Linked DNA regions of Homo sapiens. The protein of the gene in region 2 interacts with the protein of the main gene of each other region in a pairwise test. Each region holds a gene or a part of one and is shown on either strand. Other genes may lie near its edges. The genes, in order: GUCA1A and KATNAL1.

Evidence for each region.
Region 1: the proteins of KATNAL1 (region 2) and GUCA1A interact in binary tests that used the Homo sapiens proteins (3 or more experiments, as listed by UniProt).

Annotation. Positions count from the first base shown.
Region 1 is NC_000006.12:42,176,261-42,180,749, reverse strand, and holds the end of GUCA1A (guanylyl cyclase-activating protein 1), read right to left. Parts: intron 2,471-4,489; coding exon 2,321-2,470; intron 1,949-2,320; coding exon 1,855-1,948; intron 1,508-1,854; coding exon 1,347-1,507; 3' UTR 694-1,346; downstream 1-693. Other genes in the region: GUCA1ANB-GUCA1A (guanylyl cyclase-activating protein 1), read right to left, coding at 1,347-1,507, 1,855-1,948, 2,321-2,470. UniProt on the Homo sapiens protein: Stimulates retinal guanylyl cyclase when free calcium ions concentration is low and inhibits guanylyl cyclase when free calcium ions concentration is elevated.
Region 2 is NC_000013.11:30,297,384-30,304,679, forward strand, and holds part of KATNAL1 (katanin p60 ATPase-containing subunit A-like 1), read right to left. Parts: intron 1-7,296. UniProt on the Homo sapiens protein: Regulates microtubule dynamics in Sertoli cells, a process that is essential for spermiogenesis and male fertility. Severs microtubules in an ATP-dependent manner, promoting rapid reorganization of cellular microtubule arrays.

The DNA.
Region 1 (4,489 bases), on a different chromosome or scaffold from region 2:
TCTGCCTCAGCCTCCCAGGTAGCTGGGATTACAGGAGCACACTACCATACCCAGCTAATTTTTGTATTTTTAGTAGAGACGGGGTTTCACCACGTTGGCCAGGCTGGTCTCGAACTCCTGACCTCAGGTGATCTGCCCACCTCAGCCTCCCAAAGTGCTGGGATTACAGGCATGAGCCACTGCTCCCGGCTCCCTTTTATCTTTTTGAAGAGGGGTCTCACTATGTTGCCTGGGCTTGTCTTGAACCCCTCGGCTCAAGGGATCCTCCCACCTTAGCCTCCTGAGTATTGGGGATCACAGGCATTTACCACCACACCTGGCAAAACATCCCATCCTTATCTTGCTAGTAGGATTATAAATCTCTTGAAGAAGCTATGTTTGTTTGTTTTCCCTTACTGGGGTACTCCCTAAAAACAGATATGGTGATTCTTACTGTTTTAAATTTGGTAAAATTTAAATCCCAAGGGATACCCCAAATTTGCACCTAAGAATGCTCCTGTCCACATCACACAGCCCCCCACATGTGACACATACATCACAGAGAATGCATCTCCAACCACCCCACATGCATCACCTTCTTCTCTACATTCGGCCCCGAAGCACTCTTTCCTGTTCAAAGTCAAAGGTCACCTCTGTGATGCTGCCTCTGAGTCAGACGCCTGTAGGTGTCTTCTACAGAAATCTATTCATAACTTCTCTTAGCATATTTTATTATAATGATGTTTGTCTGTGTGTCTCACCATTAGCCTATGAGTTCCTAGAGGATGAAAACTGTCTTCTTTGTACATCTAACATCTAGCATTAGTACATAGTAGGCGCTCAGTAAATGCTTGTTGAAGGGAGGCGTCAATCAATGAAATGCAAAGCGCACAAGTAGGCTCCAGGGTCCCCCAGGGCAGAATGGATGTGTGATTGCAGCACTGGGATTGAAGCTGCAGCCACTGGATCTGCAGGATTCCATAAGAGGCCTGGAAAAGCTCAGTTCTGCCTCAGAGAGTCCACGTCCAGAAGAGCATGGACTGGAGAAGCTCAGTGGGGAAAGCTGGGAAAAGCTGGGAGAGGAGTCAGAAGGGCTAGGGGGTCACCCGACGGCAGAGGGATGTTGAACAGTGCCCCCCAGCAAGGAGTGCTGCCACCAGCTGTCACTCAGAGGGGCCAGGAACCATCCTTCACTGTTCCTGGCTCTGGACTCCCACTTCTGCCTCTCTGCTGCCACCATGGACCCTAAAGAGGCGAGCTAAGCCTCTGAGTTCATTAGATTCTATCTAGGGTTAAGACAAGAACACCACCAACAGGCACCACCATACCACCCCACCCGCTAGTGCAGAAGCAGCCGGGCGGTGCACTCAGCCGGCTGCCTCAGCGGCCTCGTCAGCCCCCTCCTCGTCTTGCTCGCCATTCTGGAGCCTGCGCACGATGCGGGTAAGGTCCAGGCTTCGTGTCAGTGTGTCCAGGAGCATCTGGTCCTTCTGGACGCCCTCTATAAACTCTTCCAGGGAGAGTTCCCCTGGGGTAGAGAGAAAGGGAATCAGGGGGAGGAGGGTGTTCATTTCTGCAGTCCAGAGCACAGAACCGGGTTCTTGCCAGGGGCAGGGACAGAGCCCACGTGAGGAGAAGTCAGAGCCCCTGCTGCGGGTGCAGCAAGCAGAGGAACCCAGAGCCCAGATTCTGGTCCAGGGGCCCCTAAAAGCCAACTTTGTGGCTGGGGCAGAGGCAGGTGGAGGAAGTGACCAGCACGGGGGCCTTTGGGCCTCTCCTCCCTTCCTCACCCTCTCCTTTAGTGACCTTCCACCCCTGGTGACCCCACATCCATGGTGACCCCTCCGCTGGGGAGCCCCTCCTCGGCCCCCTCACCATCCCCGTTGACGTCAATCTTGGAGAACACTGTATCGGTGAACTCCTCTGCAGTCATGGTGGTATCGCTGCAGGGGTTAATGGCGCGAATGGCCTGGGAGGGAAGAAGGGGCAGAAGTGAGAGGGGCCCATCCTTATCCTATCTCAGGGGTAGGATTGGGGACGGTCAGAGCTTGTCCGGCTCCCAAGAGCAGTGAGGAGTAGAGTGCAGGGTACCCGGGGGCCTAGGCAGAGCTGGGACTCAAGAGTCAAACTTCTATCGTCTTTTGGTATTGATGAGGAAACTGAGGCCAAGGAAGGGAAGGAACGTGGCCTGGGTCACGCAGCTGGTGAGGCCTACAGCTGCCACCAGGATCCTCAGTCCCACATCCTGTCTCAATCCTGAGATTGTTGTTCTAACCCTGGGCTCTCAGTTCCGGGTCCCACCCCAGACCGCTGCCCCCAGCCCTGGCCGGGCCCTCTGCACCTGGATGATGGTGAGCAGCTCATCGCGGTCAATGCAGCCGTTGCCATCTACATCATAGAGCTTGAAGTACCAGCGGAGCTTCTGTTCCACCTTCCCCTTGAGGACCAAGCTGAGCGCTGCCACGTACTCCATGAAATCAATGTAGCCGTCCTGGGCGAGGGGCGCGGCCGCCGTGAGCCCATCCGGGCCCCGCTCACTCCAGCCTCAGGCCCCGCCCATCATAACCCAAGGCTCCGCCCATCTCGGCAAGCCCCAAGAGACGCTGAGGGGAGACCCGGACCCTCGGAGATGCAGCGAGGGGGCCAGCCCTGTCTCCGCCGTGACCTATCTGTCTTCCTAGACGCCCTGTATAGCCCACCCTGCCTACTCCAGAGGCTGCCAATCAAATCTAATAAGCCAGCATCCACTGGGGTGTGAATGGCTGGCGCTGTCTGTTCACAGGCATCTGGGTTTTAGCGAGCGCTGCCTGCTTCCCTGTGATTGTCAAGCATGAGCCTTTCCAGTTAGGGGAAATGGGAGACATGTGCGTAGGTGGGAGGAGGAAGAACTGCACCCCCAGGGATGGGAGCGTGGTTTGGGTGAGCTTTTGGGAGTTTCTCACCCTGCTGCCTGAGGGGCTGAGGCCCCCGGAAGGCCTTAAACACTCTGAACCCCACAGTGGGCTCATTCAGTCCCAACCCACCTCCCAGGACTGTCATCAGCACAGAGCCCAGAGAGGCCCCTAGACAGCACAGCTTGAATAAGCAAGAAAACTGCTAAAGAGGTTTCCTCTGGGGGAGGGGACACCAGGTGAGGATACTTTTGCTCTTCATTTTTTATCTTTCTGTATTGCTGGAAATTTCTACAATGAGCTGGATTGCTTTTGCAGGTTTTTTTTTTAATGTCTAAAAAGGGGCAATGGAAAAGGTGTGGATTTTTGTGCCAGAAAGATCTAAATCACCTTGGATAAGTCACATGACCTTGAGTCTCCGTATTCCCAGGTATAAAATGGAATGACAGTGTGCACTTTTCAAGATTGTGGTATGCATTAGATTCAATGAAAATATATAGCAATACTAACTTTTCTTAGTGCTCTCCATGGACTTCCTAGGCTGAGTGCTTTATTCATTTTACTCATTTAATCTCAAGCCACCCCCAAGAGGTGAATATTTTTGTCTCTAGTTTGAATGACAAAGCCAAAGTTGAGAGAGATTAGGCCAAACAGCTAGTGAATGACAAAGCCTCTCCTAAATCATCCTATATCAGTACTCAAATGCAGATGGAGATTTGCATTGATTTGTGTGCACCTGTGTGATTGTCAGACAAACCCAAGCCCAGACAAACATTTGAAGTAAGCAAAGCAAATGGCCTGTCCCCCAGGTTTCACTCCCCAGTCACACTCTGTACTCCCCAGCCCTGCACATCTGGTGCAATACCCAAAGATACAACCATTTTTTAGTGCAAGGGCTGGCACTTGCACTAAAAACTTTTTAGTTTTTATTAGAAAATGGCAAACTTTTTCTGTAAAGAGCCAAAGAGTAAATATGCAGCTTTGCAGCCAAACACCCTCTGTCATTTTACGTGAAAGCAGCCATAGACAATTCTCTACGTAAATAAATAGATGTGGTGAGTTCTAATAAAACTTCATTTACAAAAACAGGCCTGTGTGCTGTCATTTGCCTGTCCCTGTTTAACTCCTCTCTGTATCAAAACTTCTGGACAGGTGCAGTGGCTCACACCTGTAATCCCAGCACTTTGGGAGGCCGAGGCAGGTGGATCACCTGAGGTCAGGAGTTCGAGACCAGCCTGGCCAATGTGGTGAAAACCTGTCTCTACTAAAAATACAAAAATTAGCCAGGCGTGGTGGTGGGCACCTGTAATCCCAGCTACTCAGGAGGCTGAGGCAGAAGAATCACTTGAACCCAGGAGGTGGAGGTTGCAGTGAGCCGAGATCGTGCCATTGCACTCCAGCCTGGGTGACAAGAGCAAAACTCCATCTCAAAAAACAACAACAACAACAAAAAACAAAACAACAACAACAACAAAAACTTCCCAATCCTGTGTTCCATCTCCTAGCCAATCTGCTAAACTGCTCCATGCTGATGACAATGGGTCAAGACAGTATTATGCAAAGTGTGATTGTGTGCCATGGGTGTAGATGAGGCAGGTTGGGTGTTACAAAGTCACTCT
Region 2 (7,296 bases):
TTAACAACAGATGCTGGCAAGGCTGCAGCGAAAAGGGAATACTTATACATTGTTGGTATGGAAAGCAGTTTAGAGATTTCTCAAAGAACTTAAAACGGAACTACCATTTGACCCAGCAGTCCCATTACTGGGTATATACCCAAAAGAAAACCAATCATTCTACCAAAAAGACACATGCACTCGTATCTTCACTGCAGCACTATTCACAATAGCAAAGCCATGGAATCAATCTCGGTATCCATCAACAGTGGATTGGATAAAGAAAACGTGGTACATATATACCATGGAATACTATATGGTCTTAAAAAAGAACAAAATCATGCCCTTTGCAGCAACATGGATGTAGCTGGAGGCCATTATCCTTAACAAATAAATGCAGGAACAGAAAACCAAGTACTACATATTCTTACATATAAGTGGGAGCTAAACATTGGATACTCCTAGACATAAAGATGGCAACAACAGACACTGGAAACTAATAGAGGTGGGAGGGAGGCAGGCAAGAGTTGGAAAACTATCTTTTGGCTACTACACTCACTCTCTGGGTGACGGGATCATTCATATCCCAAACCTCAGCATCATGCAATATACCCATGTAACAAACGTGCAGATGTACCCCCTAAATCTAAAATAAAAGTTAAAAATTTTTAAAGTATTTTTAAATTGAGACATGTACATTTTTTAGACGTAATGTTATTGCACACTTAATAAACTATAGTATAGTGTAAACGTAACTTTTATATGCACTGGGAAACCAGAAAATTTGTGTGACTAGCTTTATCGCAATATTTGCTTTACCAAAATGGTCTGAAACAAAGCCCACAGTATCTCTCAAGTATGCCTGCAGTTTTGTCAGTTCTAGAATGCAAAATAAATAAACTCATATGGTATATACTCTGATTTCCTTCATTTAGAATAATGCTTTTGAGATTCAACTATGCCCTTATATGTATCAGTAATTACTTTTTATTGCTGAGTAGTATCCCATTATATAGACATACTAAAATTTGTTTATTCACTCATCAGTTCTCCATAGCGCACTTCACAGAAACAAATCACAAAAGTACAGGACATATCATTTACCCAGGCTTTACTTTATTTCCACTGAGTTTACATCTAAAATTACAAGATACAAAGAAAGCAATCCACTATGAGGGAGAATTAATACAACATAAAGCAAAATTAAGGCCTTTTTAGCTACTGTAAAATAAGTACATTTAAAGACATAGGGACAAGAAATTTTAAAATAAATAAGCTTATTTGAAAAATAATCAAAAAGAACTTCTGGCATTAAAATATATAGTCACTGAAATAAAAACAAAACTCAGTGGACTGAGGAAGCAAGAGATTAGACACAGATAAAAGGAGAATCAATAAACCAGAAGACAGAGCTGCAGAAACTGACCAGAATGCAGCATATAGAGAATAAGTAAATAAGATTAAGAAATGCAACAGAGTAGAAAGAGAAGATCCATCATGTATGTCTATTATGAATTCCAGGAGAAAAAAGAAAGGCAAAATTCAAAAATACAGTGGCTGAGAATTTTCCAAAACTAACAGAAGACAATAATTTTCAGTTTCAAAGCAAATCAAAGTTCACACCTAGAGACAAGGTAGTAAGACTGAAGAACATTTAAAACAGAAAGAAATGACAAATTATATACAAAGGAAAGAAATTATATTGACAGCTAACTTTTCAAGAGGAACAGTGGGAGCCTGGAGACAATGAAATAATATCTTCCAAGGGGTAAGGGTGTAGGGGGTTGGCAACCTAGAATTGTATACCAAACCATTCAAGTTTATGTTTGATAAAGGCCACATAAAAATTTCAGACAGAAAAGCCTGGATATGAATCCAGGCACCATAAATTTTTAGTTGTGACCTCAGGCAAATCATATAATTTCAATAAGCCTCAATTCTGTCTACAAAATAGGAAAAATAATATTTATCATAAGGTTATTTTAAAAATTAAATGTGATCATATGTTAACATCATTCCTCACATACAACACTGAATCAATATAAGGAATATTTTTACTCTACACTCAACATCAATGCAGATAACTGAAGCAGTTAATTTTTCCTCTGAAAAAAAGAAATCAACTGATTCAATTTTCATTATAAATTTCTAGAAGCTATACTAAAATTATTTTTAGTCATAATCTTGAAACATAGTTTTTTAAATCTCCTTTAATATAAATTAGAAGAATTTCTAGGTCTTTTTAAAATGTCAGGTTAAATCTAAAGACAAAATATTTTAGCAATGTCTAATATTTGACAATGTCTCTTATTTTGAGATTATGTATTCAAAAATAAATTAAGCATCTTCTTACAGTATTTACTGCTGAACTGACCCAGCAAAGTTGCCCTATACAGAATGCTCCAGATAATACCTTCAAGGAGAGTTCTAGGCTCAGACTGAGAAGAGCTCAGTCCAAGTTCATGCTCAGATCAAGAAGGAATACTGCTTTATCTGGTTCCAGATAATTATTTTTGTAACTGTTTCATGACTCAGATCTAAATGTAACACATAAAGCCATCTTTTCAGCTACATCTCCAACCTTTCTGTTCTCTCCTTTAAATCTACCATCACCCACAACACACACACACACACATTCTCTCCCAACATACTTGAATTTTTTATCTCATGCCAAGACTAAGACATATAATTGAAAAAATGAAAAGCTAGCTTGTATCCAGAACCCAATCCCACCAGGGATGTCACTCATAATTCCTTTTACAAATGAAATCATAATATTTATCATTCTTTTGTCTCCACAGTAATGGTTTTTGAAGAGGAAACAAAACATTTTTTAAACTAATTTTATGTGAATGATGTCAATCTAATTCAGTTATACTTACAATACATATGAGGCTAAGAAAATAATTTCTGCTTTAAACTATTTTTATTCTGACACTTCCATATTTTTCTCCTATTGTTCCTTTTCCTCCTAAAAGTTGTAAATTCCTGAAAGTAGATGCCTATTTCAGAAACACCTAAGTAACCTGAACTATAGCAATGTGAACTAAATAACACTAATTAGAACAGTGGTAAGCAAAACAACAAATCAAGTTTTATTTTCAATATTTTGTACCACAATGAATTTTATCAATATGTCCAGGCTTTACATGCTTAATGAAAAAAAAAAAAGTTTCTCCAAATCACCGAAGTCCAGTTTATGTCATACAATGGCTGCTATAAATAAAAGCAATTAAGGAAACACATAACCATGACTTCTCAAATTAATGCATCCTGAAGTATGTTTCAAGCACAATAAATGAACCTACTATGTGAGTACTAATCAACCAAATAGTTAATTTTGAAAACCACAATACCTCCCATCTCTTTATTTTGGGTAATAGTCTCAAGGACTACAGTTTGCCATGAATAATAAAGAAAACAACCACAAACCCAGACATTACAGAAGAATGTATGTAGTAATTAAGGCTTTTCATTTATTTTTTACATGTATACAAATCACTTCTCAAATATTTTAGAAACAAAAAAAAACTGTTCATAAACATAAAAGAATCTAGATACTAATATAGGGTTCTAAGAGCTTAAACGTTTCTCAAAAGTAACCATCACAGTAATTTCTGCTCATGTTCTAAATTCTACTGGCAGCTTTAAAATATTACAAAGGACAGAAAATGTGGATCATCTGTTACTGTGTCTCAAGATGACAGCTTAAACTATAAACTTGGCCAGGCATGGTGGCTCACGCCTGTAATCCCAGCACTTTGGGAGGCCTAGACAGGCGGATCTCCTGAGGTCAGGAGTTCAAGACCAGCCTGGCCAACATGGCAAAACCCCGTCTCTACTAAAAAAGTACAAAAATTAGCGGGGCGTGGTAGCGAGTGCCTGTGGTCCCAGCTACTCAGGAGGCTGAGGCGGCAGAAGCTTGAACCCAGGAGACGGAGGTTGCAGTGAGCCGAGATGGCGCCACTGCACTCCAACCTGGGCGACAAGAGTGAGACTCTGTCTGAAAAAAACAAACAAAAAAAACCCTATAAACTTTATCTAATTGCATAAATACCCTTTTTAGCACAAAAATAATAGTAGCGATGTTTATTGAATGCTAACTCCCCACCAAGTAATACGATAAAAATGTTTTTCTAGGCATTATCTCATCTAATCCTTATAACACTACAAAACAGTAACAGTTACCCACCATTTAGCAGAGGAGGTGACTGAGGCTTTAAAGAATTTAAATAATTTGCCCATAGAGCCTGGATTTGAACCCAGATGTGTCTAACTCAGAGCCTGTCCTCCTGGCTCATTACAATTTACTGCCTCAAATTCCTTTAAAGTTACGCAGCTAATCTAAAAATAAATATAAAAGGCTTATTAACAGAAATAAAGATATTTTGTTGTGGTTGCCTATATAATTAAATACTACTTGTTTTTTAATTTCATAGTGCTTTGAACAGCCTAAAACCTTTCAAAACCATCTGCTTCATATTACTGTATTTTATGAAGTATGTATGTATGTATTTATTTATTTTTGAGGCAAGGTCTCACTCTGTCGCCCAGCCTGGAGTGCAATGGTGCAATCTCAGCTCACTGCAACCTGGACCTCCCAGTCTCAACCAATCCTCCCACCTCAGCCTCCTGAGTAGCTGGGACCACGGGTGTGCGCAGCCACGCCTGGCTAATTTTTGTATTTTTTGCAGAGATGATGTCTCGCCATGTTGCCCAGGCAACTTGTCTCAAACTCCTGGACTCAAGCTTTCTGCCCCTCTCAGCCTCCCAAAGTGCTGGGATAACAAGCAAGAGCCACCACACCCAGACTCAAGTAGTCTTTGAACAAGTAATTTTATAATCATATTTACTTACTCATCCATTCATCATTCAATCTAAACTAATTAGTAAGCACCTACCACATTAAGCAAATAACCTATATACATATAAGAAACAATGTAAGGCCACGTGGAGTTCACTAACATAAAATTCTTGACTTCAAATAATATCTAATAATGCAGAGAAAATACAAGTATAAAAATATCAGGAATTATGTGTTAAATACCAGTCATCCATACTCTCACAGAAGTAGGTCAGAAAAAAAAAACAGTCACTACTGATTCTCTCATTCATTTCTCTTCCTACTGCCAAATCACCAGGAAAAATGGAAAGAGTAAAACATCAGAAAGAAAAGAATACTGACATATAAAGACACTCACAGAGACAGGAATAAACGAGAATAAAGGAACAACTTATTGAAATACAGCAAATGAAGTTATATTGTTTGTCCCTCAAACACGTAAAAGCTAAGAAAATAAGAAATAAAATACATTGTTTTTTGGAGATGATTTCCTTAAAAAACACAAGAGTGAGTATACCAAAACTAGTTTGAGCACTGACTGAAATGTAACATCCTTTGAGAGAGGGGCCAGATCTTATTCATGTATCATGTATCATTTGGTGCACTGTTTGACATAAAGACACACAATAATGTTTCTTGAACTCAAATGCAAGGCACATGTGTTTGATAAATGTCCACAAAATAACCATTCTAAAGAGTTCTATAATACCCTGGGAAGTAAATACAATTGGGGGATCAGCAACTAAGCATTAAATTCTTTACAAAATGCAAAACAATACTGAGATATGATTAAAAACTATAAAAAGTGCTCACTAAAAACAGCTTCATAGCAAAATATTAAAAAGAATAAGATTTCAAACCAAAGCTCACTTTTTAATAGGCTGCCTAATAGGAGCTTTTACAATTACTAATGGACAGAACAAAGTTACAAAAGGACTTAAAAGGTCATTTACTCCTTTGCCATCCGTTCAGTTAGGACCACAATCAAACCATACCCCAGCAAAAGAAACATATCTAAAGACATCCAGTGAAGATTAAACCACCTTGAAAAACTACTCCATTTTTTTTAAACTACTCTCACAATCTATGCCTTGAATTTATCTGGCAAATGCCCATATCTCACTTTTATCAGGTATTCTAGGGCACAATTTCCCTGGGACTACCATATATAAGTATAGTTATCACTGAAGAGAAAAATGTTTAAAATAATGTTGAGCCGGGTGTGGCCACATGCCTGAAATCCCAGCCACTGGGGAGGCTGAGACAGGAAGGCTGCTTGAGCCCAGGAGTTCAAGGCTGCTGTGAGCTATGACTGCACCATTGCATTCCAGCCTAGGTGACAGAGTCAGACCCTGTCTCCAAAAAATAAAAATAAAATGAAATACTCTTGAGCACATTAAAATATAAACATATTTTCATTTACAGATGCTCAAATATCAGTGAAATCACAAATCAGTCCAGACATTAAATACTGTCAGAATTGAAGAATTTTAGAGCCATTGAGCTCTCATATTATCTAGTGGAACTTCCTGTTTCTTTGAAGATGAAAACAAGGCAAAAGTACATTGGTATTAATGCCCTATACAATAACATTTTATAGCATTAACGGAAGCTTCATTTTAAAAAATTGATTAGTCCTCAGACTCTAATCATCACTTTGTAATATAACTACTACCTGATCCACCTGCTTAATATGGTCAAGTAAAGTCTAGAACAGGGCCTTTCTATCAGACAGAACTGGCAGTCCTGCCACACTGTTAGTAAGGAAGTGGGAGAAGAAATGCTTTCAGTTGTTGAGCACTTTAGGGTTTACCTCCACTAAACTGTTTCAACTTCCCAAAATCAAATAAATAGTATTAACACCTCATATGAAATAAGGGTACAGATTTGGAGACCTGCCTATGATCATGCAGAAAATAAGTTGGAGACACAAAATTAGACAACTTACTTTCTTTCCTTATTTTCCCCTCCTTTGTTATGCTCTCTCCCAGTTCTTCTTCCTCTATGCCTCCTAACTAGGGTCTCATTTGTAGGCTCCTCCCGCAAACACATACACACAACTCTTTTTTTTTTTTTTTTTCCTGACACGGAGTCTCGCTCTGTCACCAGGCTGGAGTGCAGCAGCATGATCTTGGCTCACTGCAACCTCTGCCTCCTGGGTTCAAGCTATTCTCCTGCCTCAGCCTCCTGAGTAGCTGGGACTATAGGTGTGCGCCACCATGTCTAGCTAATTTTTATATTTTTAGGAGAAACGAGGTTTCACCATCTTGGCCAGGATGGTCTCGATCTCTTGATCTCCTGATCTGCCCGCCTCAGCCTTCCAAAGTGCTGGGATTACAGGCGCGAGCCACTGCGCCCGGCCTACACACATTTCTTAAATGAGAGTTCCATATCCAAACCTCTTCCTTTTTCTTTTCTACTCATTACTCCAATGTGAGCTGGTCCATTCTCCCTTGTAGCTTTAATTACTTATC